Linked DNA regions of Homo sapiens: region 1 is linked to region 2. Evidence: fine-mapped expression QTL. Tissue or cell type: whole blood. Region 2 holds a variant in brackets; the other region holds the start of a gene. All regions are shown on one strand. Distances are between the middles of the regions.

The links. PIP is the estimated chance that this variant, and not a neighbour inherited with it, causes the effect.
Region 1: it holds the start of DOCK6, and the variant in region 2 is fine-mapped to the expression of DOCK6 in whole blood (TOPMed, PIP 0.99).

The regions. Positions count from the first base shown.
Region 1 is chr19:11,260,208-11,264,317 of GRCh38, reverse strand. It overlaps DOCK6 (dedicator of cytokinesis 6), which reads left to right and starts at 1,794. Exons shown (of 48, transcript NM_020812.4): 1 at 1,794-1,921. The coding sequence starts at 1,878. RefSeq lists silencers at 1,710-1,869, 1,940-1,999, 2,080-2,219.
Region 2 is chr19:11,227,836-11,231,835 of GRCh38, reverse strand. It overlaps DOCK6 (dedicator of cytokinesis 6), which reads left to right. Exons shown (of 48, transcript NM_020812.4): 23 at 2,801-2,896. Among named protein-coding and RNA genes, the nearest start is that of ANGPTL8, 9.8 kb to the left of the region's middle. The variant C/T (reference allele first, on the strand shown) is at 2,349.

The sequences.
Region 1 (4,110 bases), 32 kb before region 2:
CACTTTGGGAGGCCGAGGCGGGTGGATCACCTGAGGTCAGGAGCTCCAGACCAGCCTGGCCAACATGGTGAAACCCCGTCTCTACTAAAAATACAAAAAATTAGCCAGGTGTGATGGTGGGTGCCTGTAATCCCAGCTACTCGGGAGGCTGAGGCAGGAGAATCGCTTGAACCTGGGAGGCAGAGGTTGCGGTGAGCCGAGATTGTGCCATTGCACTCCAGTCTGGGCAACAAGAGCGAAATGCCACCTCAAAATAAATAAATAAATAAATAAATAAATAAATAAATAAATAAATAAATAATAGAGGATAAAATGCCAGCAACCCATAGATGGGAATGAGAACAGCACGTGCAAAGGCCCTGAGGCAGAGCCACGGCCTTGTCTGATTCAACCTCAAATTCTCCCTGGGGCATTTGCTGACCAGGGAAAGAAGGGCTGTCCAGGAGGAAGGACCTGCCGGTGCAGAGGCATGCAGGTGAGAAAGGGGTGAGCTCCTCCAGAGGGGAGTGTCGGCTGGAGAATTCTCTAAAAATGCTGCAGCAGTGCTGGGAGAGAGGCCAGTGGGGAGAGATTTGAGACCATAGATTAACCAAGACATCCCCACCTCTTCCTCTTGGTAGAGGCGGCCCCGAAAGTCTAGACTCCCAAACTGGCTCACTCAGGTCCCACCACCTGGACCTGGGGCACATCTCCGAGCACTCCAGTGCCTAGCCAGGCTCCTCTGACTCCCATGCTGTAGACTGGGAGCACGGACAATGCAGGCGCTGGAGACCCCTGTGAGTCACACTGAGCAAGCACCCGAACACCTCTGTGCCTCAGTTTACTCATCTGTAAAAGGAGGAAAACAATAATTTCTTCTGCATGTGTGAATTGCAGGGCCAGGCTCAATGACATCTTAGCAATTAGACTTTTTGAGACAGGGTCTCGCTCTGTCACCCAGGCTGGATTGAAATGGCACAATCACAGCTCACTGCAGCCTTGACCTCCCAGGCTCAAGCGATCCTCCTCCCTCAGACTCCCAAGTAGCTGAGATTACAGGCACACACCACCATGCCTGGTTAATTTTTGCATTTTTTGTGGACACGGGGTCTCATTATGTTGCCCAGGCTGGTCTCCAACTCCTGGGCTCAAACAATCCTCCTGCCTTGGCCCCCCACAGTGCTGGGATTACAGGCATGAGCCACCATGCACGGCCACGATTATACTTACAGGTATGATTATTAGATACATGAACATCGTTATTGTTTTCCAGCCAGGAGTCAGAGGGCAGAAAGAGCGCCCCCCAAACCCCGGAAATCTGGGGCCTACCCAGCCTGGGTCCCAGCGCCTCCCCTCCCTCCCTCCCTCCTGAGCTTCAGTTTCCCCAGCCCTGCTCCTGGGGTGGTAAGACCACCCCACTAAACCCCGGGAGCCTGGGGTCCACCTAGCCCGGGTCTCAGCGCCTCCCTTCCCTCCCTCCCTCCTCAGGCTCAGTTTCTCCAGCCCAGCTCCCAGGGTGGAAAGAGCGCCCCCGCCAGCTCGGGAGTCTGGGGCACCCCCAGTCTGGGTCCCAGCGCCTCCTCTCCCTAACTTCCCTCCTCAGCCTCAGTTTCCCCAGCCCTTCTCCTAGGGTAGAAAGAGCGTCCCCCCAGCCCGGGAGTCTGGGGCCCGCCCAGCCTGGATCCCGGGGCCTCCTCTCCGTCCCCAGCCTCAGTTTCCCCAGCCCCCAGGACTCCAGGCGACCCCTCCGGCCTGCAGGGGCAGCACGGAGCGGCCCGGGCCACCCGGAAGGGCCCCGCCCCCGCGCCGGCCCCGCCCCGCCCCGGCTGCCCAGAACCGGGAGGCGGCGGCGGCGGCGGGGCCGGGGCCCGGGGCGGCGGCGGCGGGACGCGAGGACCATGGCTGCCTCCGAGCGCCGCGCCTTCGCGCACAAGATCAACAGGTAGTGTGGCCGCGGGGCCCCCTCCCACCTCCCCCACGTGGCCCGGCTCCGCCCCGGGGCGGTGCGACCCTCCCCGCCCGGGCGCCCCCAATTCAACCCCTTTCCGCCTCGGCCCGGGTCCCGCCAGCTTCCTCCGGCCGGGGCTGGGAGCGGGAGAAGGCGGGGAGGGCCGCGGGGGTCCCGGCGGGGGTCCCAGATGGGAGTCGCGTCGGGGCTGGGAGCGCGATGGCGGCTGCCGTTCTGCCTCCGTGACGCGCGGGGGTGTGTCCGGAGGGCTTCCCGGAGGAGGTGGCGTGGGGATGCGGATGACGGGCGCCCCCTGAACTCCCTGCGCTCCCCGTCCGCCTCTCGGCCCCTCACTGTCCCCGCGCTCTCGGAGATCGGGGTGGGCCGGACTTTCTGTTCCTTCCTCAGTGCCTGGTTTGGGGCAGGGAGGCTCCAGGCTCTGAGATTTGGGGACAGAGATGGGCTCCTTGGTGGCGTTTGAAACCCCTCGAGGAGTTTCCCGTGCCCTTCCCCCTCCAGGGTCCAGTGCCCAGCTGTCGGGGGGGGGGAAGGGGGACAGCTGTGGACGCCCCCCCACCTTCTGCTTCAGGCTCTCCCGTCACGGGCTGGACCGCGCTGGGGATGGATGGGTGATTGAATGGAGGGAGTGGGGGCTGGGGACAGAACCAGCTGGTGGGCAGACGGGGGAGGGGACAGGCCCCAGGCGCTGGGGGATCCATTTCCGTGGCCACTGGGGATTGTGAGAGTCACAGCCTGGGAGGGGTATATCAGACTCTCTGGGGCTGAAAAGCCTCGCCCCCAGTTGGCGGGGGGTCTTTGCGACAAGGGTGCGTTCAGAAGCTCAGGTATCCTCTCCCCGGGGGACCTGTCCTGACTGCCCCCAGGTGAAAGAGCTGCCCTGTGGGTTGGGCCCTGGTCTTATGGAGACAAAAGATCCCCCTCTTGGGATATAGTGGCGGAGAGAGACCAGAAGCCTGATCGAGTAGATTACCTGTCAGTGACAAGTGCTGTAGGGACAAGAAGACAGGGAAGGGGGATGGGAGGGTGGGGGCTGCTTGAGATGCGGGAGGTGGGTCAGGAAGGCCTGGATGAGCAGGTGCCTTTGAGCAAAAACCTCAAGGAGATGAGAGAGGGATCGATCGAGGCCAGTTTGTGGGGGGAAAGAGTGGGAAGGGTTTGTGCAAAGGCCCTGAGGCAGGAACAGAGAGCTGGAGGGGGACAGTAAGAGTAGAATGTACAGGGTCGTGTGGGCTGTGCAAGGGACTTTGACTTTGGACCCCAGGTGAGGTGGGAGCCATGGGGAGTTCTCAGCAGAGGAGGGATGAGACTTGGTGGCTGGGGCGTAATGGCTGGGCAATTTTTATGTTCTATCATTATCTTTGTCTGTAAATTGGCTTTCAAAATGTCTTAGACCTTTGGCGTCTTTGAGGCTGCAAACATTATTGCTGTCTGTTTCTTTTTCTTTCCTTTTCTTTTTCTTTTCTTTCTTTCTTTCTTTTTTTTTTTTTGAGACAGAGTCTCGCTCTGTCACCCAAACTGGAGTGCAATGGCACAATCTTGGCTCACTGCAACCTTCGCCTCCTGGGTTCAAGCGATTCTTGTGCCTCAGCCTCCTGAGTAGCTGGGGTTACAGGCGCCCACTACCACACCCAGCTAATTTTTGTATTTTTAGTAGAGAGGGGGTTTCACCATGTTGACCAGGCTGGTCACGAACTCCTGACCTCAGGTGATCCGCCCACCTCCCAAAGTGCTGGGATTACAGGTGTGAGCCACTGCACCCAGGCTTTTTTTTTTTTTCCTTTTCTTTTTTTGAGACAGGGTCTTGCTCTGTCACCCAGACTGGAGTGCAGTGGTGATACCTTGGCTCACTGCAGTCTCAATCTCCCGGGCTCAAGTGATCCTCCTGCCTCAGCCTCCCAAGTAGCTGGGACTACAGGTGTATGCTGCAACACTCAGCTAACTTTTTAACCTTTTGTAGAAACGGGATCTCACTATCTTGCCCAGGCTGGCCTCAAACTCCTGGGCTCAAGTGATCCTCCTGCCTCGGCCTCCCAAATGCTGGGATTACAGGCGTGAGCCATTGCGCCCAGCTTGCTGTCTGTTTCTTTGCATTTTGGTCTGTATGTCCTTGGGTCCTGGTTTTTACTCAAGTGAGAAAGAGGGGTTTTGGATACTGTAGAGCT
Region 2 (4,000 bases):
TGGAATGGAACCTCTCGGCTCCCCTATCCCATTTTAGACAAAGAGCTCCCCTTACCCTGCCTCTTTCCAGGTACCTGGTGTAGGGGGACGCTTTGCCTCCAAACAGACCTGGGTTCAAGTCCTAGCTCTGCTATGAGCTCACCCCATGCTCTGAGCAATTGGATGCATCTTCCTGAGCCTCAGTTTCTTCATTTGTAAAATGGAGATAACACTCCAAATTTTCGGATGCAGTTTGGACTCAAAATATAGTGCTCCCCCAGCAGTCCTGAGCCTGTGCTTGAGTTAGGGCTGAGGGCACTGCAGTGGGATTTTGTTGGGATGATAGATTCTTGGTCTGGCCTTGACCCTGAGCTTCCAGCTAGTTGGGGAAATAGACACGGATCAAACAAATGCATAAGTATATGATCACACAGCGTGGAAAGGAAGCAAGTAGCAACCGAATACCAGCTTCCCTCTGGGTGGTCTTGGGGGCTTCTCCAGGGGAGTGACATCTTTTGCTGGGACCCGAAGGGTAAGATAGAGTCAGCTAGGGAAGGGTGGGTGGGTGTGGGTGTTCAGGAAGAGGGAAAGGCATGTACAAATATTGGGACCAAGGTCAGAGGACTGTACGCACAGAGAGGAGGCCACAGGGCTTGCTTCCTTACACACTTGGCCCTAGGGCCTATTCCAGCTCTGTGCCCATCACCAAGGTAACCTGTACCCTATGACAGGCCCAGGGGACTCCTAGCAGAACAAGCAGGGGGGGCCTTTGGGCAGTCATTTCCTTGGATTGCTGGGAATCTGGAAATCTGGGTGACACTGAGGCTGGGCCTTTTCAATGGAAGGCCCTCACGGTGCACAGTGAGTTGCCAGGGTATGGCTGGGACTGGGGTAGCTAGAGAGCCCTCAAGTGTCAGAGTAGGTCCCAGGGTTGGGTCGTCTCTGTCATCAGACCTCCTGTTCCTGCGAGCAGCCTCACCCCCTAACCAGCGAAGGAGGAAGCGAGAGTGGAGCTTGAACTCCTCTGCCTATACCCATTTCACAGATGGGGATACTGAGGCCCAAGCCAGGCTTGGGCAGGGCCAGGCCTGGAACCTTGGGCTCTCTCTGCTATTCCTGGCACCTCACCAACATCTCACCTCCTCTGTCCTTATCTTCCTGCCTTGTCTTTCTCCTCCTTCCCCATCTTGTGTTTAACCTCCTCTGTCCACACTCACCCTCCTCCACCTCTGCATCCTCCTCTCTGTCCTCTAGACTCACTGACTCGGTCACACTCTACACCTCGTCTACACTCACCCTCACCTTCTCTGGCCACACACATTCTTGCTGTCTACACTGATTTCATCTCCTCTGCCTTCACCCCACACACCATGTACCCATTCCCAGCCTTCGTGTGTTCTCGGTCCCACTCCATCCACACTCCTCCTGCCTGTTGTGGTTGCACTGCTGTCACTGGTCACTGGCGTACTGTGTTTTCATTGTTATTCTCACCTCCTCCATCACGTTCTTTTTTTTTTGAGACGGAGTCTCGCTCTTATCACTCAGGCTGGAGTGCAATGGTGCAATCTCGGCTCACTGCAGGCTCTGCCTCCCAGGTTCAAGCGATTCTCCTGCCTCAGCCTCCCAAGTAGCTGGAATTACAGGTGCCTGCCACCACGCCCAGCTAATTTTTGTATTTTTAGTAGAGACGGGGTTTCACCATTCACCATGTTGACTAGGATGGTCTCGATCTCCTGACCTCGTGATCTACCTGCCTCGGCCTCCCAAAGTGCTAGGATTACAGCATCCTCCTTTTTTTTTTTTTTTTTTTTTTGAGATGGAGTCTTGCTCTGTCACCCAAGCTAGAGTGCAGTGGTACCATCACAGCTCACCGCAACCTCCAAGTCCCAGGGTCAAGCAATCCTCCTGCTTTGGCCTCCTGAGCAGCTGGGACTACAGGCACACGCCACCAGGCCCAGCCATATATATATATTTTTGTTTGTTTGTTTGTTTTTGTCTTAGTAGAGTCAATGTCTGACTATGTTGCCCAGGCTGATCTTAAACTCCTGGGTTTGAGCAGTCTTCCTGCCCCAGCCTCCCAAAGTGCTGGGATAACAGGTATTGAGCCACCCCGCCCAGCCTCACGTTCTTCTCCCATACCCACACACCTTGATCTTGACTCACCCAGCTCTCTCCAGCGACTCTTTTATTTGTCCCTGCCTCCACTGCCCCGTCTACTCCCACAGCACCCTGGCCATTCCAACCAGCCTCCCCTCCCAACCCACGCCGGCCCATCTCTCTTTCTTGCCTGTCCCCATTGGCATCCATGGCCCTGGTCCATCCATGTGGAAGCATTTCTCTCTCTATATTCACACTAACCTACCTCTTTT[C/T]CCCATCCCTGTCTGTGTGAACACGTCTTTCCTCCAACCACATACCCCTTCACCTCATCCACACTAACCTTCTCCTCGCCATCACATCCCATCATAGGCCATCGACTGCAACTCTAGCCGAGCCTCCTCCTACCTCGAGGGTTCCTCCTCGGCCCCACCAGCCACCCAGCTGAGACCCACTGTGCAGAAGGTAGTGGGGGGAGGTGCGGATGACGCTATTTTTGTCCTGGTCCCCAGCAAAGGGGTCCAGTGCTCCTCCCCCATCCAGAGTCCAGGGGGGTCTGGCGAGCCCAGGGAAAGGGCACTTCCACTCCTCTTGTCCCCCTCCTCCTGCCTGGCTCCTGCTGCACTAACCCCGAGCCCTCCAGCTGCATCTTCCCCTGGCATGTCTCCAGAGGGGGTACGGGAAGGGGTGGCACCTCGCACTCTGTGACCCCTGCCTCTGTCCCCAGCTGCTTCACGAGGAGCTGGCTCTGCAGTGGGTGGTCAGCAGCAGTGCCGTACGCGAGGCCATCCTCCAGCACGCCTGGTTCTTCTTCCAGCTCATGGTGAGACCCCCTCCTCCCTGCCTGGTGGCAAGAGACCCCCAGTGGAGCCCCTTCCTTTTTTAAAGAGAGAAGCCCCCTGGCCAGGCATAGTGGCTCACACCTGTAATCCCAACACTTTGGGAGGCCGAGGCGGGCGGATCACGAGGTCAGGAGATCGAGACCATCCTGGCTAACACGGTGAAACCCCGTCTCTACTAAAAATACAAAAAAAAATTAGCCAGGAGTGGTGGCAGGCGCCTGTAGTCCCAGATACTCGGGAGGCTGAGGCAGAAGAATGGCGTGCACCCAGGAGGAGGAGCTTGCAGTGAGCCGAGATCGTGCCACTGCACTCCAGCCTGGGCGACAGAGCGAGACTCTGTCTCAAAAAAAAAAAAAAAAAGAGAGAAGCCCCCTGAAATTGCACCTGAGATATTTGAGAAATGGCCCCAAGAGACCCCCCCCCACAACCTAGGGAGGTGAGAGGCACTTAAGGTGGTGTCTCCCTGGAGAGACTGTACCTGAAACCACCTTTAGAGAGAGCCACCCTTCCCCATGAGACTCTTTAAGGAGAGAAACCATTAAGAGACCCTCACCTAGACAGGAGACCTGCATCCTGCAGGAGATATTCCTGGATAGAGAGAGAAAGCTGTGGTCAGGCACAGTGGCTCACGCCTGTAATCCCAGCACTTTGGGAGGCCGAGGCGGGTGGATCACTTGAGGTCAGGAGTTTGAGACCAGCCTGGCCAACATGGTGAAACCCCATCTCTACTAAAAATACAAAAGTTAGCCGGGCGTAGTAGTGCGTGCCTGTAATCTCAGCTACATGGGAGACTGAGGCAGGAGAATCGCTTGAACCCAGTAGGCAGAGGTTGCAGTGAGTCAAGATTATGCCACTGCACACCAGCCTGGGTGACGGCAAGACTCCATCTCAAAAAAAAAAAAAAAAAAAGAGGGAAAGCTTTCTGATCAAGGTAAGACACATCCCTAAAACTCTTCAATAGGTTATTTGAAGCCTCCTTCCCAGGGCCTGCTGGCTGCATCCCCTCTGGGCCTCCAATAAAGCTCCCTTCAAATCCAGTGCCTCAAGCCCCACCCTTTGTCCCACCTCTGACTTGCCCTGGGGAG